Homo sapiens: one gene and its partners. The protein of the gene in region 1 purifies or fractionates together with the protein of each later gene. This does not show direct contact. Each region holds a gene or a part of one and is shown in the gene's direction. Other genes may lie near its edges.

The links.
Region 2: the proteins of SEC13 (region 1) and NUP85 purify together in Homo sapiens (affinity purification with mass spectrometry; 7 studies listed by BioGRID and IntAct, with this or other methods). This does not show direct contact.
Region 3: the proteins of SEC13 (region 1) and SEC16A purify together in Homo sapiens (co-immunoprecipitation; 5 studies listed by BioGRID and IntAct, with this or other methods). This does not show direct contact.
Region 4: the proteins of SEC13 (region 1) and NUP98 purify together in Homo sapiens (affinity purification with mass spectrometry; 6 studies listed by BioGRID and IntAct, with this or other methods). This does not show direct contact.

What each region holds. Positions count from the first base shown.
Region 1 is NC_000003.12:10,300,397-10,304,112, reverse strand, and holds the end of SEC13 (protein SEC13 homolog), read left to right. Parts: coding exon 1-87; intron 88-2,738; coding exon 2,739-2,852; 3' UTR 2,853-2,965; coding exon of another isoform or gene 2,966-3,007; 3' UTR 3,008-3,182; downstream 3,183-3,716. UniProt on the Homo sapiens protein: Functions as a component of the nuclear pore complex (NPC) and the COPII coat. At the endoplasmic reticulum, SEC13 is involved in the biogenesis of COPII-coated vesicles.
Region 2 is NC_000017.11:75,215,670-75,222,703, forward strand, and holds part of NUP85 (nuclear pore complex protein Nup85), read left to right. Parts: intron 1-84; coding exon 85-154; intron 155-2,515; coding exon 2,516-2,637; intron 2,638-7,034. UniProt on the Homo sapiens protein: Essential component of the nuclear pore complex (NPC) that seems to be required for NPC assembly and maintenance. As part of the NPC Nup107-160 subcomplex plays a role in RNA export and in tethering NUP96/Nup98 and NUP153 to the nucleus.
Region 3 is NC_000009.12:136,459,007-136,466,040, reverse strand, and holds part of SEC16A (protein transport protein Sec16A), read left to right. Parts: coding exon 1-79; intron 80-1,478; coding exon 1,479-1,621; intron 1,622-2,300; coding exon 2,301-2,362; intron 2,363-2,439; coding exon 2,440-2,578; intron 2,579-2,908; coding exon 2,909-3,154; intron 3,155-4,766; coding exon 4,767-4,864; intron 4,865-5,917; coding exon 5,918-5,999; intron 6,000-6,166; coding exon 6,167-6,284; intron 6,285-6,485; coding exon 6,486-6,597; intron 6,598-6,801; coding exon 6,802-6,907; intron 6,908-7,034. UniProt on the Homo sapiens protein: Acts as a molecular scaffold that plays a key role in the organization of the endoplasmic reticulum exit sites (ERES), also known as transitional endoplasmic reticulum (tER).
Region 4 is NC_000011.10:3,787,549-3,794,582, reverse strand, and holds part of NUP98 (nuclear pore complex protein Nup98-Nup96 isoform 1 precursor), read left to right. Parts: intron 1-7,034. UniProt on the Homo sapiens protein: Plays a role in the nuclear pore complex (NPC) assembly and/or maintenance. NUP98 and NUP96 are involved in the bidirectional transport across the NPC. May anchor NUP153 and TPR to the NPC.

The sequences.
Region 1 (3,716 bases):
TTGTTGCACAAGTTCAACGATGTGGTGTGGCATGTGAGCTGGTCCATCACAGCCAACATCCTGGCTGTCTCTGGTGGAGACAATAAGGTACATACCCATTCCCCGTGGCATGGTGGACACAGCCTGTTGGTCTTCACCCCGCCCACTAGAGAGGGCACTTGACATTCCCATCTGACTGCAGGCTGGGCAGGAGCCTTAGCCAGGACTGCGTTTTGAGTGTGCCTCTTAGTTACATCATTAATGTCACAGCCCCTGAGGTAGTATTAACACGTCCCCCTTTCACAGATGAGGAAAGAAGCTGACAGAGGCGATTTGACTTGCATGGGGGTCCCAAAACTATGAGGTGGCAGAGCCAGTCAGGCCCATCACCCTACTAAGCATTTGGTCACCTCATGGTGATGTTCAGTTAGCTGTGCCAAAAAGGCAAGTGTATAAGAACCCATAAACAGAAGAAGATTGGGGATATTTTTTGTCCATAACACTGAAAAGGCTTTTTAAAAACCTTTAGAGTTTATGAATACTTGTTATGCTGGTAAGAGGCAGGTACACAGTGGGTGCACTGGAAGAGTTTGCATTTTGCAGCTGAAAGAGTTCTGGAGACCAGCTGCTCAGGGACCCAAATGTACTTCACACAACTGGACTGTGCAGTTAAAAGTGGCCAAGGTCATTTTATGTGACGTGTATTTTACAATTAGAAGGAAAAAAGCTACCCGCAGAAAGGAAGCAGTAACAAGCCATAGCCATCTGCCCAGCTGAATTCCCCTATAAGACAGAGGATCTCTAACGCCGCAGGGTCAGTTCCACGTGGAGTGGCTGTGCTGCGTTTTCAGGCACATCTGCTCTGCGCCTGAAGTGCGAGTTGGTCTGGATCCTGCCAGCCCTTGCTGCTTCTCTCCCTTGCCTATGTTGGTCTTTTACTGTTTCCCAGTGGCCACTTTGGCTCCATGTCTTACCTTTCATTTGTGTGGCTCACGGCACAACCAACACAGGCAAGGCAGAGAAGCAGCTGGTCTCCAGAACTCTTTTCAGCTGCAAAATTGAAACTCTGTACCCATTAAATAACTCCCTTCCCCATTGCCCCTCCCCAGCCCTGGCAGCCACCCTTCTCCTTTCTGTCTATGTGAATGTGACTGCTCTAGCGACCTATCTAAGTGGAATCATACAGTATTTGTCCTTTTGCGACTATGTCACTAGCAGTATGCCCTTAAGGTTCCTCCATGCTGTACGTAGCATGTGTCAGAATTCCTTCCTTTGTAAAGCTAAGTAGTGTTGCATTGTATAGACAGCCCACACCCTGTTTCTACACTTATTCCTCCACCAAAGGGCACCTGGGCTGCTGCCACCTCTTAGCTATTGCGAATAGTGTGGCTGTGAACATGGGTGTGCAGATCTTGAGAGCCTCTGCAGGCGGCTTTTCTGGCCGAGGGTCCCTTTCATCTACAGTGGTCCCAGAAAGATCTAGCAGGCCCCCTCTCAAAGCCATATTTCTAGTGAGTGCCAGAGTCAGGACCAGAACCCAGGTTGATGGCACTCAGGGCAGACCAAGGGACCCAGATTGCCTCAAGCAGGCCCCCAGTGACTTTTTTACAAGGCTGTAAGCAAGTGCCTGGCTGTGCACGCAGTGTTGTGGGGCCCGTCACTGTGCATTTAGGCTTCTTGCTCTTCTTTACAAGCCTGTTTCCTTTCGCTGTCTCCATAGCACCCTTACCTAAAGGACTTAGTATGTTTTCAATCCCAGAGCATTCTGCAGTGTGTTGAGTGAATAGTTTGTCCCTAAAGCAAGAGTTCTTAAAATCAAAATCGTTATTTTCATTTTTAATCAAACTAATATATGTACATAGGTTTAGATTGTTTTTGTTTTTTGTTTTGTTTTTTGAGATCGAGTCTCGCTCTGTCGTCCAGGCTGGAGTGCAGTGGCGCAGTCTCGGCTCACTGCAACCTCCGCCTCCTGGGTTCAAGCGATTCTCCTGCCTCAGCCTCCCCAGTAGCTGGGAGATTACAGGTGGCTGCTAGTTTTTTTGTGTGTATTTTTAGTAGAGATGAGATGGGGTTTCACCAGTTCAGGCTGGTCGCGAACTCCTGGCCTCAGGTGATCCACCCATCTCAGCCTCCCAAAGTGCTGAGATTACAGGCGTGAGCCACCATGCCCGACCTAGACTGATTTTTTTTAATGCAGCCTCCTAATTTTCTCTCCAGGGGCAAACCTTTTCAGCTCTTAGCTATTTCTTATACAGTTTACTTCAGTGTAGAAACAACATATTGAACTGTTACCTTCCTCTACCACAGTAGTTTTCAAACTGCAGTGTTGTTAAACCTGTTAAAACAGATTGCCAGCCCCACCCCCAGAGCTTCCTAATCAGTTGTTCCAGGCCCCAAGAATCTGCAGTTGTAGCAAGCTCCCAGGTGACCGATGCTCTGCTCTGGTCTGGGGACCACACTTTGCGAACCCTGCTCCCCGCCACCCCATATCCTCTCGCTGTAGCTCTGTCACAGTTTGCTGAAAACAGTATCCTGTGTTGACATCATCATCCACAGCTGCTGTTATTGTTACTCCTTTTTTTCTGTGAGTTTTTATTCCTGGACTCTCATTTTGGTGAGATTTCAGTGGAGGAGGGACATGCTCTGTTCACCCACAAGCCTCTGGGCAGTGGTTCTTGATGAGGATGAGGCTCATATTTAGGGGACAGCAGAGGGAAGGGCACAGACCCGTGATAATCTGCTTGTGCACTGACTCGCAGGTGACCCTGTGGAAGGAGTCAGTTGATGGGCAGTGGGTGTGCATCAGTGATGTCAACAAGGGCCAGGGCTCCGTATCAGCATCAGTGACAGAGGGCCAGCAGAACGAGCAGTGACAAGACAGGTGGGGCCTGGCTCCCCACCCGCCAGCTCCAGGACTGCCCCTTCCTGGGCCAACTAACCAGACAACTGGGAAGAGCCCCCAACTCCAACAGGATTATTTTCCCAGGAGGAGTTACAGATGCAGCCACAGATTGATCATCTGCCTTAACGTGATCGGAGATGCTTTGTAATCTACTGTCCAGCTGAAAGCACTCATGTTACGAGGAAGAAACTACAAGTGATGTTCAAATCTATTTTGGGTCATTTTTATGTACCTTTGGGTTCAGGCATTATTTGGGGGGTTTTGTTTCCAAAGGAACTAAATAAAGTCATATTGCTTATAATTCCTGCTGCGTTATCCTAACCACCCCACCCCACCAGCTCAGTTTGACTCTTGTCGGTCCACGCACTAGAACAAACTATTCACAAAGGCCACGGCTGTGATGGCCTGGCTTAACCCCACGCACAAAGGTGGCTTGTCACTGCATGAGCATCTCTGATTCAGTTTATACTGAAAGCACCATACAGAGCACTGGACTCAGCCTTTGGTGACAAGGACTGTAGCCCTGGGTCTGCTACTTACCCTCTCGGTACACATCCTGTTCTGCAGAATGGGACTAATACAGTCTGCCCTACAGGATGGCTGCAAGATTCAAACACGCTAGTGCATCTGGTGACCTACAAAATGCCACGCAGGTGCAACGTGGTATTAACCAAACACCAATAGTTAAGATGCTGGCCCAGAAAGTGGGCACGATTCATTTAGTTTATTGACCCTGTCAGGAAAAGGAGGGCCCCATGATGGGAGACCTAACTGACCCTGAACCAGGTATCACCTTTCAGCGGAGGCCCTGTGACCCTGACAATCGCCATAGCCA
Region 2 (7,034 bases), on another chromosome or scaffold:
AGTCAAAGTCTGCTTTATCCCTTGGCTCTGAGAGCAAAGCTCAGGAATCATTTCAGGTGAAACCTGTCCCCATTTCTTCCTTAGGTCTCCATTTTGTCAGCAATGGAGCTCATCTGGAACCTGTGTGAGATTCTTTTTATTGAAGTGGCCCCAGGTAGGCATGGAATATCTCACCATAATCTCATAGGTGTCCCCTTCCATCTTCTGCTCTTTCCTCATCTTTCCTGTGCATGGTGATGAGTGTTTTATTCCTGAGAATGTTCTTTCCATCATTATAACCACGGGAAGTCGTTAGAAAACACCCAAAGAAACCTGACCGTTTTGTCAGGTGCTGCAAAAAGAATCATGCAGAGTGCCTCCAAGAAACCTAAACCCTGACAAGTACTGAGAAATATTAAACTAGTGTGTGAAAGGGGGTGTCAGTGTTAACATCATGGACTGGCCAAGCTTAAGAAAGTTTTATGAATGTGGGGTAGGATTAGGTGGTGAGAGGCAAAGTCACATTGGGAATTCTGTCATGAATCATTGGGACAGGGCAACTCTGTGTGTTAACTCTGCCAATGGGTATGAACTCTGCCAATGGGAATTTTTCTGTTGATCTTTTTTTTTTTTTGAGACAGAGTTTCACTCTTGTTGCCCAGGCTGGAGTGCAATGGCGTGATCTCAGCTCACCGCAACCTCCACCTCCTGGGTTCAAGCGATTCTCCTGCCTCAACCTCCTGAGTAGCTGGGATTACAGACATGCGCTGCCACGCCTGGCTAATTTTGTATTTTTAGTGGAGATGAGGTTTCTCCATGTTGGTCAGGCTGGTCTCGAACTCCCAACCTCAGGTAATCTGCCTGCCTCGGTCTCCCAAAGTGCAGGGATTCCAGGTGTGAGCCACCGTGCCCAGCCTTCTGTTGATCTTGAATTAAACTGTGGTCAGTATAGTGTCATGGCCTGTATGAGCTCTCTGTGGATCTGCTGCAGCTTTTTTGCATTTCTTTTAAGGATTTATGTTTGCTATTTTCCATAAATGAGTAGTAACCTCTGTGTAGCCCTAGCATTTTATTCATACTCTCACTAAAGAAGTGAGGAACTTGAAATTAGAGTTGGTTGTTCAGAGGCCTCCCTTCTCCAGTGGATTTTTGAGGAGGTTACAGTTGGCTCTTTGTATCTGCAGGTTCTACATCATGGATACGGAGTGCTGGCTGTACTCTGCCATTTTATTTCATTTTATTTTTATTGATTGATTGAGACAAGTTCTCACTCTGTCACTTAGGCTGGAGTGTGGTGGTACAATCACAGCTATTGCAGTCTGGACCTCCCAGGCTCAAGCGATCCTCCTGTCTCAGCCTCCTGAGTAGCTGGGACTACAGGCACGTGCCACCATGCTAGGCTAATTTTTTGTGTGTATATGCTGGGGGAGGGGAGACAGGGTCTTGCTCTGTCACCCATGCTGGAGTACAGTGGCGTGATCACAGCTCAGAAGCCTCGACTTCCTGGGCTCAAGCAATCCTCCTGCCCAGCCTCCCAAGTAGCTGGGACCACAGGCCTGCACCACCACGCCCGGCTAATTTTTGTATTTTTTGTGGAGAGGAAATTTCGCTATGTTGCCCGGGCTGTTCTTGAACTCTTGGGCTCAAGCAGTCTGCCCATCTTGGCCTCGCAAAATGCTGGGATTATAGGCGTGAGCCACCATTCCTGGCTCGGCTAATTTTTTATTTTTTTTTGTAGAGATGGGGTCTCCCTATGTTGCCCAGCCTAGTGTCAAACTCCTGGGCTCAAGCGATCTGCCTGCCTCAGCCTCCCAAAGTGCTGGGATTACAGACATGAACTACCATGCCCGGCCATATGTTTTGTTTTGTTTTGTTTTTTGAGACAGAGTCTCACTCCGTCACCCAGGCTGGAGTGCAGTTGTGCGATCTTGGCTCACTGCAACCTCTGCCTCCTGGGTTCAAGCAATTCTGCCTTAGCCACCTGAGTAGCTGGAATTACAGGCATGCGCCACCACGCCCGGCTAATTTTTGTATTTTTAGTAGAGACAGGGTTTCACCATGTTGTCCAGGCTGGTCTTGAACTCCTGAGCTTAGATGATCCACCTGCCTTAGCCTCCGAAAGTGCTGGGATTCCAGGTGTGCACCACCAGCCCCCTGGCCCTATGTTTTTATCATCATTGCATACCTGGCTGCTTGCTATCTAGTCATTGTTGGTTCCTAAACGGCCATTACTTATGTAGCTATTAAGTATTTGTGAAGAATCTGGAGTGTGGGGTAGTGAGGTCTGCATTCCATGTTCACCCCTTTCTGGGGTCAGTTAAAGATGGAGCTGCCTGGCACAGAAGTAATATTTGGTGAAAGTGCATTTGCTTTTTCCTAGCACAGTCTGTCATTCAGGACCATGTGTGTGACTGCTTAAAAGGGATAAACCTATGTAGTCAGCTTGTCTGCCTTAAAGTTCTCTGTTCCTTGGATAAAGGAACTTGCTGCAGATGAAGCTGAGGCTTTTGTGTGTGATGAGAGTCTCTCCTCCCAGCTGGCCCTCTCCTCCTCCATCTCCTTGACTGGGTCCGGCTCCATGTGTGCGAGGTGGACAGTTTGTCGGCAGATGTTCTGGGCAGTGAGAATCCAAGCAAACATGACAGCTTCTGGAACTTGGTAAGACAGGCCGGGCCCCCACCTCCCACCATGTGTCCTACTGTCCCTGGTGCTGCCGGGTGGGTCTGAGGACACCCACTGAGCCTCCAGCAGTAGGCTGGCTTTTGGAGTCTGTTACTATGGAGACTCTTTTGGATCTTTTCTTCCCTGCTCTATGGGAGAGTCTAAAACCGAGGTACCATGTAAGAAAAATAATGCTTTGAAGACTTTTCCAGGGTAAAAGGAAATTTGATTTCTTTGTGGATCTAAGGAAGAGAAGACACAAAAAGGAATACAAAACCGTTTTTTTTTTTTTTTTTTTGAGACAGGGTCTCGGCTGGGTGCGGTGGCTCATGCCTGTAATTCCAGCCAGCACTTTGGGAGGCCAAGTCAGGAATCTCTTGAGCCCAGGAGTTTGAGATTAGCCTGGGCAACAAAGTGAGACCCTCCATCTCAAAACAAATTAATAAATAAAAATATAAAAGAGAAAAGATAGTCCGACTCTGTTCCCCAGGCTGTTGTGCAGTGGCCTGATCTTGCTCACTGCAACCTCCGCCTCCTGTGCGGTCCTACCACCTCAGCCTCTCAAGTAGCTGGGACCACAAGTGCCAACCACCATGCCTGGGTAATGATATAAAACCAATTGACAGGGGCTGGGGTGCATACAGGGTTGGATGTAAATGAGCTTGCACATTACTTTGGATCATCAGTTTCGAAGTCAGCATGTCGTATATGTGTATATGGATGTATTTTCTATGTGTTAGGTATTTCCATTCACCTCTGCTGACTGACCCAATTGGGAGGTGGCAGGGAGGAGATCGCTAGTTGACTGGGCTAATGGAAAGTCAACTAAACTTATAAAGCCTGAAATTGGGAACAGATTGTGAGGACAAAAAAAAAGAAAAGAAAAGAAAACCTGGAATTCGGCCCGGCACGGTGGCTCACAGGAAGTAGTGGGCCAAATGTTTGAGTCTCTGATTGATTCGCTAAGGTTTGTTGTTGTCGTTTAGAGACAGGGTTTCGCTTTGCGGCCTGGGCGGGAGTGCAGTGATGCGATCATGGCACAATGCACCTTTGATTTCCTGGGCTCAAGCAATCCTCCCACCTCAGCCTCCTGAGTGGCTGGGACTACAGGCGCACACCACTACGCCTGGCTAGTTTTATTTTTTGTAGAGGTGAGGTTTCACTGTATTACCCAGGCTGGTCTTGAACTCCTGGGCTCAAGCAATCCTTCCACCTTGGCCTCCCAAAGTGTTGGAACTGCAAGTGTGAGCCACCATTCCTGGTCATTCACTGAGTATTTATTGAGTCCCTACTATTTGCAAGGCACCAAGGAGACACCATGACTAAAACAGGCAAAGATTCCTGCCTTTATGGAGTTTATATCCTGTGTGTGGAGAAAGAACAGCAACACATAGGCTAGTACCATGTATCCTGGCACATAGTGAAATGCTCTGCCAAGGTGCCAAGAAGGGAGGGAGGCTGCAAGTGCTGGAGGGGCATCGAAGAAGGCCTCCCTCATGAGAGATTGGAGGTGAGACCTGAAGGAGGTGAGGAGAGCTAGGCTGAAGAAAGCATTCCAGATAGCAGGGCCTGTAGATGCTGTGTTCTAGAGCCAGGGTGGGGCAGGAGGGGCTGTGCTATGTAGGGGTAGGTGGGAGGGATGAGCTGGGGAGATAAAGACAGAGCGATACCAGGCCAGGTCTGAGACAGCCCCCTGGGCTGTCACTGAGACTTTAGCTTTTTGCAGCCTACATAGCAGGGTGACTAACAACATGGTCTGTGGTGCCACACTGCCTGGGTTAGCATTCCAGCTCTGCCTTTTACTAGCTGTGAGGTGGGTTTTTTTCCTTTTTTGAGACAGAGTCTCTCTCTGTCACCTAGGCTGGAGTGCAGTGGCGCCATCTCAGCTCACTGCGACCTCTGCCTCCGGGGTTCAAGTGATTCTTCTGCCTCAGCCTCCTGAGTAGCTGGGACTACAGGCGCGCGTCACCATGCCCAGCTAATTTTTGTATTTTTAGTAGGGATGGGGTTTTACCATATTGGCCAGGCTGGTCTCAAACTCCTGACCTTGTGATTCACCCACCTTGGCCTCCCAAAGTGCTGGGATTACCAGCATGAGCCACCATGCCTGGCCTTTTTTTTTTTTTTTAAATACAGTTTCACTGTGTTCCCCAGGCTGCAGTGCACAATCACCAGTCACTGTAGCCTTGGCCTCCAGGTCTCCAGTGGTCCTCCTACTTTAGCCTCCCAAGTAGCTGGGACCACAGACATGTGTTACCACCACCAGCTAAAGTTTTTATTTATTTATTTATTTTTTGAGATGGCGTCTTTCTCTGTTGCCCAGGCTGGAGTGCAGTGGCGCTATCTCAGTTCACTGCAACCTCTGCCTCCCTGGTTCAAGCAGTTCTGTCTCAGTCTACCAAGTAGCTGGGATTATAGGTATACGCCATGATGCCCAGCTGGTTTTTGTTTTGTTTTGTTTTGTTTTTTGTATTTTTAGTAGAGATGGGGTTTCATCATGTTGGTCAGGCTGGTCTTGAACTCCTGACCTCAAGTGATTTGCCTGCCTCCCTCCATCCCACCATCCCAATTTTTTTTTTTTTTTTTTTTTTAGCTGGAGTCTCGCTCTATTGCCCAGGCTGGAGTGCAGTGGCACGATCTCGGCTCGCTGCAAGCTCCGCCTCCCGGGTTCATGCCATTCTCCTGCCTCAGCCTCCCGAGTAGCTGGGACCACGGGCGCCTGCCACCACGCCTGGCTAATTTTTTAATTTTGTTTAGTAGAGACGGGATTTCACCATGTTAGCCAGGATGGTCTCGATCTGACCTTGTGATCTGCCTGCCTTGGCCTCCCAAAGTGGTGGGTTTACAGGCGTGAGCCGCCACGCCCGGCTAACCCAATTATTTTTTATTTTTATTTATTTATTTTTTGAGGCAGAGTCTCACTCTGTTGCCCAGGCCAGAGTGCAGTGGGGCGATCTCAGCTGGGATTATAGGCTCTCGCCATCCTGCCTGGCTCATTTTTTTATTTTTAGTAGAGATGGGGTTTTGCTGTTTTGGCCAGGCTGGTCTCGAACTCCTGACCTCAAGTGATCCGCCTGCCTCAGCCTCCCAAAGTGCTGGGATTACAGGCTTGAGCCACCATGCCCAGCCAAATTTTTTTATTTTTTGAACTCCTGGCCTCAAGCAGTCCTGTTGCCTTGGCCTCCCAAAGTATTGGGATTACAGGTGTGAGCCACTGTGCCCGGTCACTAGGTGTGAGATCTTGAGTGAGCTACTTAACGGCCTTAAGGGTCCTCATCTGTCCAGTGGAGATAATAATACCTGTCCCATGGGGCTGTTGTGATCATTAAATTAGTTAAAGGACATAAATGTGGGTGAAGTAGTTGACACGGTTGATGCACAGTAAAAGCTAGTCTTTTACTTCTAAGCCATATGGGGTGAGGGGGCATTGGAGAGCTGAGCAGAGGAAGCCTGAGATCTTACTTAGGTTCCCAAAGGCTGTCCTGGCTGCCATGTTGAGACTACAGCAAGGATGGAAACAGGCCAGTCTGGATTCTGCTGTACTAAGCCAGGTAAAAGATGGTGGTGGTGTAGGCTAGATATGTTTGAAGAGAGTTGATGGGGTTTGCTGATGGATTGATTTGATGTGGGCATGCAAGAAATAGAAGAATGTGGGAGGATAAGGTTGGTGAATTGGAGGCAAACTGGTATTTAATTTTAGACATGTTTCTCTCGTGTGTGTGTGTGTTTTGTTTTGTTTGTTTGTTTGTTTGTTTTGAGACAAAGTCTCTGTTGCCCATGTTGGAGTGCAGTGGTCAGATTACAGCTCACTGCAGCCTTGACCGCCTAAGCTCAGGTGATCCTCCCCTCCTAAGCCTCCCAAGTAGCCAGGACTACAAAGGCGTGCCACCATGTCCAACTAATTTTTGTATTTGTAGTGGAGACGGGGTTTTGCCATGTTGTCCAGGCTGGTCTCAAACTCCTGGGCCCAAGCAATCCACCCTCCTTGGCTTCCCAAAGTGTTGGGATTACAGGCGTGAGGCACCATGCCTGTCCGACATGTTACGTTTTAAGATGCCTATTCAAGATCTAAGTGGAGATGTTGACTAGGCACTTGGATATACAAAGCTGGAATTCAGACAAGGAAGTTTGGGCTAGAGAGGAAAAGTTGGGAGTTATCAGTATGTATATGTTTATATATTTGTGATTTTTTTTTTTTTTTTTTTTTTTTTTTTTGAGATAGAGTTTTGCTCTTGTTGCCCAGGCTGGAGTGCAGTGCCTTGAATACTGAATTAGTGAATATTGAACCATTGCTCCTAGGGGAAATACAGGGTTAGGTTCCTGCAAGCCTCTGGTCATATTTTGTTCAACCAATCAATATATAACCGATCACTTGTTTTATGTGTGTATCTGTT
Region 3 (7,034 bases), on another chromosome or scaffold:
CGCAGCAATTTCAGCAGTGGCCCCGGCTTCCCAGAGTATGGCTACCCTGCCGACACCGTCTGGCCTGCCATGGAGCAAGGTGTGTGCTCAGCAGGACAGAGGGATACCGGCTAACCCCACTGGGGCGGCCACCCAGCCTGGCATCTGAACACGGGAGTCAGGGCTGGGATTGGAATTGTGATGTCCTGGCCTGGCTCTGACCCAATCCGTCCTTCCGAGAAGCAGGGTGTGTCAGGACGGGCCGATGCTGTCTCTTCGATTGCAGTTTGGTTTAAGGCCTGAGAGCTGCCCTGCCTGCCCCGACATGCGTTTTAAAGTGTGACTCTGAGGACAGCTCATATCCAGGCTCTGGGCAGCCCCTGATCACATCCCCATCGCAGACCCCGTGGCTCAGCAGGCGTGCAGGAGGGAGCTGCTCATTCCCCTTGGAGACTCCGCTCCTGCAGTTGTCCCGCGTGTCAGTCAGAGTTCCCTTCCAGGATGCTCAAATGCTTTTTCTTGGCAAATTGCAGAAATATACGTAAAGATATAAAGTTACAGAATTTAATGGTAGGCTGAGTTTTTTTGTTTGTTTGTTTTTTGGTTTTTTTGAGATGGAGTCTCACTCTGTCTCCCAGGCTGGAGTGCAGTGATGTGATCTTGGCTCACTGCAACTTCTGCATCTCGGGTTCAAACGATTCTCCTGCCTCAGCCTCCTGAGTAGTTGAGATTACAGGTGTTTGCCACCATGCACAGCTAATTTTTGTATTTTTAGTAGAGATGGGGTTTTGCCATGTTGGCCAGGCTGGTCTCAAACTCCTGACCTCAAGTGATCCATCCTCCTCGGTCTCCCAAAATGCTTGGATTAGAGTGTGAGTCACTGTGCCCGGCCTTACTTTCTTAAAGTATTGTTTCAGTTAACATTTTTTCATTTCTTTTTTTTTAAGAGACAGAGTCTCACTCTGTCACCCAGGCTGGAGTGCAGTGGCACGGTCATGGTCTCTGTCTCCTGGGTTCAGGTGGCCCTCCTGCCTTGGATCCTTTCAAAGTGCTGGGATTACAGGCATGCACCACTATGCCTGGCTCCTTATTTTCTTTTTTGCTTGAGGTGTTTTGCTGTCCTTTTTGCTGGGTGCTGTGTGGTCATCGCAGTCTGAATTTGATTTTGTGAAAATGGAAGAGCTCGGGAGTGGGCCAGGCCTGGGAGGATTACGCACCGTGGCAGGAGCCTCAGGGCGGCTCATGAGGGTGTTGCGGGAGCTTTCTCAGTGTACAAGGGAACAGCTTTCATGCTTAATGATTCAGACATTTTTCTTTTCCTGACGTATGCTGAAGTTCTACTTTTAAGTATGATATTAAACAATTACCGACTTTTGAGTTGGAAGTCTGTCGTGATAAATCTAACCTGTGATTTAAGCTGTGTGAGCACATTGAAAATCTAGGCTCAGAAGCATCAGTGACAAGCTGATTGTTTCTTTTTCAATTTATTTTAAATGCAGTTTCATCAAGACCAACTTCTCCTGAAAAATTTTCAGTGCCTCATGTCTGTGCCAGGTTTGGCCCTGGCGGTCAGCTTATCAAAGTGATTCCCAATCTGCCTTCAGAAGGACAGCCGGCCTTGGTGGAGGTCCACAGCATGGAGGTAATGGCACACGCAGAAGCGTGGCGTCACTGCTCTGCTGCCCTGGGGAACTCTCTGCTTTGCAGTTTGTCATCTTCAATTGTCAGACCTTGTCTCTGGACATACGTCCTTGGAAAATGTTTATTCCTGTGAATTTTCAATTTGTAGGGTTTTTCTTCTATTTGATCATATATTTTTCCTCCTAGAAGTCAGTATTGTAAGCGTCTGCCTTGGGTGTTCAACGTGGTTTGATTGTATATGCATTTTCTGTCCTCGTTTTGGGGATGTTTGCTTTATTGGTGCTTTTCAATGATAGATGCAGTGGGTGGGCCCGGTGCTGCCCAGGTGAGGGGGGCGGGTGGGGTGGACGTGCACGGCGCTGCCGAGGTGACGGGGGCTGGCATGCGCCTCTTCCTGCAGCTTCTGCAGGCTTCTGTCACATGTATTGGGGTTCTGCCTCAGTATTTGGGGAGAGAAAATGGATTTCACTACTTAAAATAAAGTTTGAAATCATGGCTGTGGTCCACACAGGCCATGTTCCATGTAACAGCCTCGACAGAGCCTTCACCTGCTGTGGGGCGGGGCAGGTGGGCCATGCCATCCTCTCCTCTCACGGGCAGCATCCGTGCCTGGGTTGGCCGGCCTGCCAGCAGGGTGGCTGCGCACTGGCTGCCACTGACCCACGGCCCTCTCCTCGTAGGCCTTGCTGCAGCACACGTCTGAGCAGGAGGAGATGCGGGCGTTCCCGGGACCCCTGGCCAAGTATGTTCCTTGTTGAGGCATTTCTTTGTGAGCCCGGCCTTGCAGACATCACTGCTCACTGTGTGTTCTTTCTGCAGAGACGACACCCATAAGGTGGATGTCATTAATTTTGCACAGAACAAAGCTATGAAATGTTTGCAGAATGAAAACTTAATTGACAAAGAGTCTGCAAGTCTTCTTTGGAATTTTATTGTTCTCTTATGCAGACAAAATGGGGTATGTTTCTTTCTACTTCTAGAGTGTTTCTTCTTGCTGGTCTTCATTTCGTCTTGGGAATGCTCAGCCTCCCGAAGGAGCAGGGCGGGATCCGCGTGGCCAGCTATGGGAGCCTCGAGGGCCCCCTTAGGAAGCACACTGTAGTGGCTGGGTAGGGAGGGAGAGGGAACGTGCGGTTGGGATGGGATGAGGTTTCAGCCCAGCCTTGCCAGCCTTTCGGGTAGTTGTGGGTCTGGCTGTGTCCAGGGTGGGGCTTTGTGCCTGTGGTGGTCCAACGCGTCCTCACCTGAGAGCCGTTGTTCTCCTTCCTGTTCCTGTTGACCCAAACAGACCGTGGTAGGGACCGACATTGCGGAGCTTCTGTTACGAGACCACAGAACAGTGTGGCTTCCTGGGAAGTCGCCCAATGAAGCAAACCTGATTGATTTCACGAATGAGGCAGTGGAGCAGGTGGAAGAGGAGGAGTCTGGTGAGGCCCAGCTCTCTTTCCTCACTGGTGGTCCGGCGGCTGCCGCCAGCTCGCTCGAGAGAGAGACCGAGAGGTTCAGGGAGCTGTTGCTGTATGGCCGTAAGAAGGTGCGCCTCCTCATCATGGCACCTGGCGCCTGCACATGTCCACTGGGTCGGGCCTGGTGCGGGGTTGCAGCCTTCAGGGAGGGACGTGGCCCCCTCTTGGGAGCATCCGCGCTGCAGTGTGGGGCTTCGGGTCTTGCTGTTTCCTGAACAATGCCTGACTCTTGTATGCCATCCTTCTGGAGGTGTTAATGTTGGTTTCCTTCTAACTGTTTCCAGTGTTGGAGACCTGCAGATTAAATTTTCAGTTATTCGATAAATGCACATGTTGAGCACAGGCCGTGCCCCTGCTGTGTGTGCCAAATCTCGGATGAAATGTGCATGACACAAGTTGTGGCATTCTCACAAAGTCAGACTCGAGTCCACAGCCCAGAAGTCATTGGGAGTTGGGAGGGCACACTGAACCTGTCAGAGGCGCAGTGCATGGAAAGGCCATGGGCAAGAGAGCAGCCAGTGCGTGTAGCGTCCAGTGACTGGGGTCACAGCAGCGTGGGGACTGGGGCAGGTGGGGGGCCTGAGACAGGAGCCTGCTCTGGGACAGTGGGGTTGGGGGGTCCATAGTGACTGCAGCAGTGACACTATGTGCACAGGAGGGGCTGTCTAGGGTGCATGATGTTTGCTTTGGATGTGCTAAGCAGGAGAGAGGCCAGTCTCAGAAGCATGTGTGGCCCTGAACAGCAGAGACATGGGATAGGCTGAGAGTTTTCTGTCCTTTTATATCATGATAAACTCAGAAAGGGCATATTTGACCAGTATTTTTATTTTTTTATTTTTAATTTTTTTTGAGACAGGGTCTCACTCTTGCCCAGGCTGGAGTGCAGTGGCGTGATCACAGCTTAATGTGGCCTCGACCTCCTGGGTTCAAGTGATCCTCCCATCTCAGCCTCCTGAGTAGCTGGGACTACAGCTGCATGCCACCACGCCTGGCTAACTTTTTTTTTTTTTTTGTAGAGACGGGGTTTCACCATGTTGCCAGGCTGGTCTCGAATTCCTGGGCTCAAGCAATCCGCCCACCTTGGCCTCCCAAAGTGCTGGGATTATAGGCATGAGCCACCGCGCCCGGCCTGATCAGTATGAGTCTATTATGGATGTTTTATAACTGATTGAAGTCATGTAACCTGTTAGCTTTTATTAACATCTTTCTCTACTGTAACGTTTTTGCCTCCCAGCCAGAAGTTCTAAATTATGCCCTGGATGATTTTGGTGAAAGGGGAGGCTGCCTTACTGGAGTCACTCTCCGTGTTGACAGGATATTCGCGGAGGCCTCCTGTTAGAACTGGGGAGTTGACTCGAGCGTGTTTCCCAGTGGATGGGGCGGCGTGGTGGGCAGCGCTGCGTGATTAGCCCTGTTTGTGATTAGCGTGCTTGTGTTTTATGCTGAAAATGGATAAAAGCAGCAAATATCTACAAATACCCACTACCACAGGGACTTTGAAACTCAGGAAAATAATGAATCGCTACGTGTCTTTAGTCTCCAAATGGTGAATAAGTGTGTTTTTGAGGCCTTTGGGTTGTTTGTGTATCTGCTGCTGCGTGAGGACACATGGCCTGTCTTGACTCATGTCACGTGAGCGCCGCCGATAACCCACCAAGGTCCCTGAAATGCCTTTTGCAGGATGCTTTGGAGTCTGCAATGAAGAATGGCCTGTGGGGTCACGCTCTGCTACTTGCAAGTAAGATGGACAGCCGGACACACGCCCGAGTCATGACCAGGTACAGTCCCACAGTGGCCTGGTCCAGTGGCGAGCCCTGCTGGCTCCCTGTAGCACGCGGCGTCCGCACCCTGGGGGCAGGCGGCAGGCGGATCTCACTTGACTGTGCTGTGCTCCCACACGAACTCGGGCTTCCTTGGCCTCGAGGCTTCCTTGGGTCGTGTTGTGGAGAGCTTAAAAAGTTTTTAATTAACTGCATGGTTTTTAGTACTTCATGTAAAATCTCAGTGAATTCCTCAGTCTTCATCTTTTATAGCTTTTTTTAAATTTTGAGTTTTGCTCTGTTGCCCAGGCTGAAGTGCAGGGGCGCGATCTCAGCTCACCGCAACCCCTGCCTCCCAGGTTCAAGTGATCCTCACGCCTTGGCCTCCCAAGTAGTTGAGACCACAGGCACCCACCACCACACCCAGCTAATTTTTTGTATTTTTAGTAGAGGTGGGTTTTGCCATGTTGGCCAGGCCGGTCTCAAAACTCCTAGCCTCAAGGGATCTGCCCGCCTTGGCCTTCTGAAAGTGCTGGGATTACAGGCGTGAGCCACCATACCTGGCCTTATCTTTTACAGCTTTTTTTTTTTTTTTAATATTGAGATAAGAAAGAAAAATAAAATATTGAGATGTGTGTACTTTGCCTAAGTGAAATATAAGTCTAATCATTACATCAGAGGGCTTAGGGCTGATTTTTTAAAAAATTTATTTTATTACTATTTTATTTATTTATTTTTTTGAGACAGAGTCTTGCTCTGTCACCCAGGCTAGAGTGCAGTGGCACGATCCCAGCTCACTGCAACCTCTGCCTCCTGGGTTCAAGCGATTCTCCTGCCTCAGTCTCCTGAGTAGCTGGGATTATAGGTGTGCACCACCACACCCGGCTAATTTTTGTATTTTTAGTAGAGATGGGGTTTCTCCATGTTAGTCTCTTAACTTCTGACCTCAGGTGATCCGCCCACTTTGGCCTCCCAAAGTGCTGGGATTACAGGCGTGAGCCATCATGTCCGGCCGGCTTTTTTCTTTTAGCTGAGCCAGCATGGGGTCTTTCTGTGTTTATGTCTGCCTAGGTTTGCTAACAGCCTCCCAATCAACGACCCTCTGCAGACAGTCTACCAGCTCATGTCCGGACGGATGCCTGCCGCGTCCACGGTGAGTGGCACTGCCTGGTGGCTTGCACAGGCTCCACTGCCTGTGTGGAGTTTGCTCGTGGGTGACGCTGTCACAGGCCGTGAGGTGCCTGGTGAGCCCAGCTGTGTGGAATTGAAATGGCGCTGGCTTCCGGGGATGAGGCTTCGTTTTGTTTTTCCTCATGTTAGTGCTGTGGAGACGAGAAATGGGGAGATTGGAGGCCGCACCTCGCCATGGTCTTGTCCAACTTGAACAACAACATGGACGTCGAGTCCAGGACGATGGCTACCATGGGCGACACTCTGGGTAGGTCAGGGGTGGAGATGGGCATTGGGTGTCGCGGATGGAGCGCCGAAGGCCCGGTTGTCTGTGGCGTTGGCAGAAATCACCAGAACCCGGCCTTCTCGGTCCGGCTGGCGTCTCTGGTGCCTTCTGTGCGCGTCCTTGACTTCTGCAAGCGCTCCCGGTCGCTGAGCCCCCGCCGTGTGTCGTGTCGTCTCTCCGCAGCTTCAAGGGGCCTCTTGGATGCGGCCCACTTCTGCTACCTCATGGCCCAGGCGGGATTTGGTGTTTACACGAAGAAAACTACAAAGCTTGTCTTAATCGGATCCAATCACAGGTAAAGAACCAAGTCAGTGTAGTCCTGTAAGTTTTCCTTTCAAAGTAAAACAAAATCCTTCTCCTTTAGTGAATTCAGAAATGGCCAGAATCATGTCTTTATTTGTCACGTGGTGGGACACACTTCTGGATGATTTGCTCCAAGGTTGACTATGCCAATAATTGGCCATTTTTTCCAAATCAAAATAATTCACTTCCTCTACAGTTTGCCATTCTTAAAGTTCGCAACCAACGAAGCAATCCAGAGGACGGAAGCCTATGAGTACGCCCAGTCCCTGGGTGCCGAGACCTGCCCCCTGCCTAGTTTCCAGGTAAGCAGGTGCTGCCAGCCTGCAGCTGTCATGGCTGGGCAGGCACTCAGTGCTAACAAGCTTTTGGCTACTTAGATTGTTTGAATTGGTATCGAAAAAAATGATGTGAGTTTTTTGGGGGAGGATC
Region 4 (7,034 bases), on another chromosome or scaffold:
GGCCGAGGCGGGTGGATTGCCTGAGCTCAGGAGTTTGAGACCAGCCTGGGCAACATGGTGAAACCCCATCTGTACTTAAAAAAAAATATGAAAAATTAGCTGGGCGTGGCAGCATGCGCCCATTGCCCCAGCTACTCGGGAGGCTGAGGGAGGAGAATTGCTTGAACTCGGGAGGCGGAGGTTGCAGTGAGCCAAGATTGTGCCACTGCACTCCAGCCTGGGCGACAGCGAGACTCTGACTCAAGAAAAAAAGAAAAGAAACAAAACAAAACAGTATGTATTAGAGGCAAGGTAGGTAAACATTTCCTGAGAACTTGGTGCATTCTTTTTGTTTGAAATTGACCGTAAGTATTTGGCACAGTATGGCTCTAGAGAAAGGTTTCTCAGCTTTGGAACTTTGAGACTTTGGGCCAGATAATTATCGTGGGGGCTCTGTTGTATATTGTAGGATATTTAGCAACATTCCTACCTCTACCCATTAGATACCCATAACACATCCTCTGCAGGTTGTAACGATCAGGAATGTCTGAAGAAATTGTCAGAATTGCCCTTGATTGAGACTACTACTTTAGTGAAAATATTTCACATGTATTTATTTATTTATTTATTTTTTGAGACAGAGTTTCGCTCTTGTTGCCCCGGCTGGAGTGCAATGATGTGATCTTGGCTCACCGCAACCTCCGCCTCGTGGGTTCAAGCAATTCTCTTGCCTCAGCCTCCCGAGTAGCTGGATTACAGGTGCGTGCCACCACACCCAGCTAATTTTGTATTTTTAGTAGAGACAGGCTTTCACCATGTTGGCCAGGCTGATCTGGAACTCGTGACCTCAAGCAATCCACCCGCTTTGGCCTCCCAAAGTGCTGGGATTACAGGCGTGAGCCACCATGCCCAGCCATAATTACCACATTGAGGAATTTGTACTTAATTCAGTGTAATGGGAAATACTTGCAGTTTTTTTTAGTAAGGAAAGAAAAATTCTTAAAAATATAGTGGTAGCTGGCCGGGTGTGGTGGCTCACACCTGTAATCCAGCACTTTGGGAGGCTGAAGCGGGTGGATCACAAGGTTAGGAGTTTGAGACCATCCTGGCTAATATGGTGAAACCCTGAATCTACTAAAAATAGAAAAATTAGTTGGGCACAGTGACACGCACCTGTAGTCCCAGCTACTGGGAGGCTGAGGCAGAGAATCGCTTGAACCCAGGAGGCAGAGGTTGCAGTGAGCGCAGATTGCACCACTGTGCTTCATCCTGGGTGACAGAGCAAGACTCCATATCATAAAAAGAAGACCTCTAAATGTACCAGTCTTTGCATTCTGACATATATTATGTTGTTTTGTTTGAAGTATGTGAAGAAAATCTAGCCTCATACAGATACATAGTTGGAAAAGAGAGGAGTATTTTAATGGCCTTTTCAGATAATTCTAACTGCTCTTTGACACTACAGTCAAACCTTTTTATTTGTTTGTTTTTTTGAGACGGAGTCGTGCTCTGTCGCCCAAGTCGGAGTGCAGTGGCGCTATCTCAGCGTACTCCAACCTCCGCCTCCCAGGTTCAAGCAATTCTCCTGCCTCAGCCTCCTGAGTTGCTGGGACTACAGGTGCACATCACCACGCTGGGCTAATTTTTTGTATTTTTAGTAGAGACGGGGTTTCGCCATGTTGGGTTTGAACTCCTGGCCTCAAGTGATCCGCCTGCCTTGGCCTCCCAAAGTGCTGGGATTTCAGACGTGAGCCACCGTGCCCGGCCTCAAACCTTTTTAAAGGTTCATTACAGTATGGAATCTGAAACTGTGTCATTGAACTTTTGTATTCTGTTGTATTAAAAACCATTGGTCTGTGTTGTACTTTGAATAGACCTTTACACTTCTGTGATTTTATAACATGATGCATGTTGATTTTGAAATTATTGATTTACTGAGTTATGCAGATCTTCTTTTTTTGTTGTTTTTTTGTTTGTTTGTTTCTTTGTTTTTGAGACAGAGTCTTGCTTTGTCACCCAGGCTGGAGTGTTGTGGCACAATCTTGGCTCACTGTAACCTCTGCATTCCGGGTTCAGGTGATTCTCATGCCTCAGCCTCCTGAGTAGCTGGGACTACAGGTGTGTACCACCACATCTGGCTAATTTTTGTATTTTTTGTAGAGACGGGGTTTCAACATGTTGACCATGGCTGGTCTGGAACTCCTGACATCAAGTGATCTTCCCGTCTCGGCCTCCTAAAGAGCTGGCATTACAGGCATGAGCCCCATAGGCCTGGCCCAGATATTCCAGATGTTGACAAATTTAATTATACAGTTGTTTCTGTTTCCACCCATCTCATCAGATAAGTCTTTTTAAGAATTGAGAAGCTTATGACCTGATAGTGGTGAATACATGTTTTTTTTTTTTTTTTTTTTTTTTTTTTTTTGAGATGGAGTTTCACTCTGTCACCTGGGCTGGAGTGCAGTGGCACGATCTCGGCTTATTGCAAGCTCCACTTCCCGGGTTCACGCCATTCTCCTGCCTCATCCTCCCGAGTAGCTGGGAATACAGGGGCGTGCCACCATGCCCGGCTAATTTTTTGTATTTTTAGTAGAGATGGGGTTTCACCGTGTTAGCCAGGAAGGTCTCGATCTCCTGACCTCGTGATCCGCTCACCTCCGCCTCCCAAAGTCCTGGGATTACAGGCATGAGCCGCTGCGCCCAGCCGAATGCATGTTTTTGTAGTTGTAATTTTTGTATCAAAATTTTTTTTTTTTTTTTTTTAGATGTAGTCTCACTCTGTCGCCTAGGCTGGAGTGCAGTGTCGTGATCTCGGCTCACTGTAACCTCGCCTCCTGGGTTCAAGCAATTCTCCTGCCTCAGCCTCCTGAGTAGCTGGGATTACAGGCAGGTGCCACCACACATGGCTAATTTTTGTATTTTTAGCAGAGACAGGGTTTCATCATGTTGGTCAGGCTGGTCTTCAACTCCTGACCTCGTGATCTGTCTGCCTCGGTCTCCCGAAATGCTGGGATTATAGGCATGAGCCACCATGCCCAGCCTTTCTTTTTTTTTTTTTTTTTTTTTTTTTGAGACGAGGTCTCGGTCTTTCCCCCAGGCTGGAGTACAATGGTGGGATCTCAACTCACTGCAACCTCCGCCTTCTGGGTTCCACTGATTCTCCTGTCTCCGCCTCCCAAGTAGCTGGGATTACAGGCGTCCACCACCATGCCTGGCTAATTTTTTGTATTTTTAGTAGAGATGAGGTTTCACCATGTTGGCCAGGCTGGTTTTGAACTGCTGACTTCAAGTGATCCACCTGCCTCGGCCTCCCAAACTGCTAGGATTACAGGTGTGAGCCACCATGCCCAGCCAGTACCAAATCTTAATAACCATAGTTTGTCAATCATTCTTTGAAATTAAAATGGTGGGCGGGGCGCAGTGGCTCACGCCTGTAATCCCAGCACTTTGGGAGGCTGAGGGGGGCGGATCACAAGGTCAGGAGATCGAGACCATCCTGGCTAACACGGTGAAAACCCGTCTCTACTAAAAATACAAAAAATTAGCTGGGCGTGGTGGCGGGCGCCTGTAATCCCAGTTACTCGGAAGGCTGACGCAGGAGAATGTCGTGAACCTGGGAGGCAGAGCTTGCAGTCAGCCGAGATTGCGTCACTTCACTCCAGCCTGGGCAACAGAGCCAGACTCTGTCTCAAAAAAAAAAAAAAATTAAAATGGTGTTCCATGAGAAAAACAACTACATTTAGCTTTCAAAAGTAATTACAGGTGGTTTGCCCCTTGATATCCTTTGTATTTCAGTAAGCAGAAGTTTTTGAGTATTTCCCAATACTGAATTAAAAAGAATTGTGCTGTAGTGTTGAGAAATAATACAACTAATAATTTTTGCTGCTTCATTAAGGACCCTTTTAAGTGAAAGTGGAATTTTTTATATTGTAAATGGGTGACAGTGAAGAATTCAGTGAGTGTTAGTTCAGCACCATTTGGGGTTGTTGCTTTGATTCATGCTGAGTTCCCAGCATTTTTGCACACCATTGATTTTGCACATCAGCACAGAGGTCAGAACAGTAAAGAAAAAGGGCAAAGTGTCTTAGTTTTATTGTGAAAATGGTTTTGATTTCATTGAACCCCTGGAAGAAGTGTTGGGGACTTTTAGGGGTCTTTGGGTCACACTTTGAGAACCACTAATCTAGAACAATATTTCACATTGGTTCATAGAGCCCTAAGCTGCTTCATAGGGCAGAGCTGGTGGGGTTCTACTGTACCTACTCCCTCTTCACTTCAGCCAGAGCAGCTTCTGCTTATGTCTGTTTTATATGTCGGGTTTCATGGCTAAAAAATATTTGAAAATCATTAGTCAAGGGGAAAAGAATTGAGCACCTGAATTAGGGCTGGTCTGTTCGTGAAGGGAACAGTTCATCCTCAGTAAATGTTACAGTCACTCATCACTTCACATCTTTAATTTTACTTCGTTTGACACAGAGCTTACTAGTATTTGCACACTCAACCTTCTTGATAGGTAAATGGGGCTGTGTGCCGTGGCTCACGCCTGTAATGCTAGCACTTTGGGAGGCTGAGGTGGGCGGATCACGAGGTCGGAAGATCGAGACCATCCTGGCCAACTTGGTGAAACCCCATGTCTACTAAAATACAAAAAATTAACCCGGTATAGTGGTGGGTGCCTGTAGTCCCATCTTCTCGAGAGGCTGAGGCAGGGAAATCGCTTGAACCCAGGAGGCAGAGGTTGCAGTGAGCTGAGATCATGCCACTGCACTGCACTCCAGCCTGGCAACAGAGCAAGACTGTCTCAAAAAAATAAATAAATAAAAAATAAGTAAATGGGCCTGGCACAGGGGCTCACCTATAATCCCTGCACTTTAGGAGGCCAAAGCAGGAAGATGGCTTGAGTCCAGGAGTTAGAGACCAGCCTGGGCAACATAGTGGCACATGCCTGTGGTCTCAGCTTTTTGGGAGGCTAAAGTGGGAGGATCAGTTGAACCCAGGAGGTCCAGGCTGCAGTGAGCCATGATCATGCCACTGCATTCCAGCCTGGGCAACAGAGTGAGACCTTGTCTCAAAACAAAAACCAAAAAAAAAAAAAAAAAAAAGAAATAGGTAAATGAATTTGTAAATTAAAAAGATGGATAGTTGGGAATAAAGACAGAGATGTGAGATAGATGGAAGAGGTTGAATGATCATAGTAATCTCAATATATTGTGTTTGTGCAGGGATGGGATTTGTTTTTGTTTGCAGTGGTGCTTTATGCTTGTGCTGAGTGATCAGTGGATGACACTTAAGCATTGAGAAATAAGAAATTATGGCATTCTAGCTAGCCATTGAACCAAAGTTTAGAGTGAGGGGACATTTATTATGCTTTTTAAATTATAAATACCTGTAAAATACCTGTTGAAAAATAAACAAAATGCTGCTTTTGAGGAGCTCTAGTTTGAGGCAGCTTTGTCCTCCTACCAGTCTTTTGGTGTAGGCTGTACAATCCCTATTGTTCAGATGTAGAAATTGAGGTCTGAGAGATTGAATATTATGACTTACAGTAGCAAGTGGCAGAGGAATTTTTTATTTTTTTAACTTTTTATTTTGAATTAACTTTAGATTTTAAGAGTCAATGATGGTAACTGACAGGTTTTTTTTTGGTTGTTTTTTTGAGATGGAGTTTCACTGTTGTTATCCAGGCTGGAGTGCAGTGGCACGATCTCGGCTCACTGCAATCTCTGCCTCCTGGGTTCAAGCGATTCTCCTGCCTCAGCCTCCCGAATAGCTGGGATGACAGGCATGCGTCACGACAACTGGCTAATTATGTATTTTTTAGTAGAGACGGGGTTTCTCCTTGCTTCTCAGGCTGGTCTTGAACTCCCGACCTCAGGTGATCCGCCCACTTTGGGCCTCCCAAAATGGTGCGATTACATGCGTGAGCCACCGTGCCCAGCCTTATACAGTGATTCTTAATAGTTAGGTATATATCCTTTCACTTTTAGAAATTTATTTATTTATTTATTTTTGGAGACAGAATTTCACTCTTGTCACCCAGGCTGTAGTGCAGTGGCGCAATCTGGGCTCACAGCAACCTCCACCTCCCAGGTTCAAGCAGTTCTCCTGCCTCAGCCTCCTGAGTAGCTGGGATTACAGGCATGTAGGCTAATTTTTGTATTAGTAGAGACAGGGGGTTTCACCATGTAGGCCAGGCTGGGCTCGAACTCCTGAGCTCAGGTGATCCACCAGCCTTGGCCTCCCAAAGTGTTGGGATTGCAGGTGTGAGCCACCGCGCCTAGCCGAGTGACAGTTTTAAATACAGATGTCTCACACCAAAGCTAATATACTCTTCACTCTAAAATGATTAGGGTTATGTTAAGGGGATGAAAAAAATGCTGCTCAGTGCTATTAGGAAGGAGCTTATGTAAGATGCTATGGACTATTTAAAATTAATTTACACCCAGTGAGCAAAGTCAAGACATTTTTTTTACCCAGAGCAGCAGACAGGTAAAACACTCAGGTGGCAGGTATAATAACAAATATATTGCATAACTAAAAGCAGCTGAGAGACACTAGTTTACGTAATCGGGGTTGGAAAGGAAGAGGGGAAGTAAAGTGTTTTATTTTTTTTGAGATGGACTCTGGCTCCGTCGCCAGGCTGGAGTGCAGTGGCCCGATCTCGGCTCACTGCAACCTCCGCCTCCTGGATTCAAGTGATTCTCCTGCCTCAGCCTCCCAAGTAGCTGGGACTAGAGGCACACACCACCATGCCCAGCTAATTTTTGTATTTTCAGTAGAGACGGGGTTTCACCATGTTGGCCAGGATGGTCTCGATCTCTTGACCTCGTGATCTGCCCGCCTCTGCTTCCCGGAGTGCTGGGATTACAGACATGAGCCACCGTGCCCGGCCTTTAAAGTGTTTTTATACTAATAAAGAGTTTAAGGGTGTGCGGCAGTCTTGTGAAAGCAGGTGAGGCTTGAGCAACAATTTTTAGGAAGAAAAGGAGATACGATTTTTAGAGAGGGTATGATGTTCTTTTTTTTTGTTTGAGACAGCGTCTTGCTCTGTTACC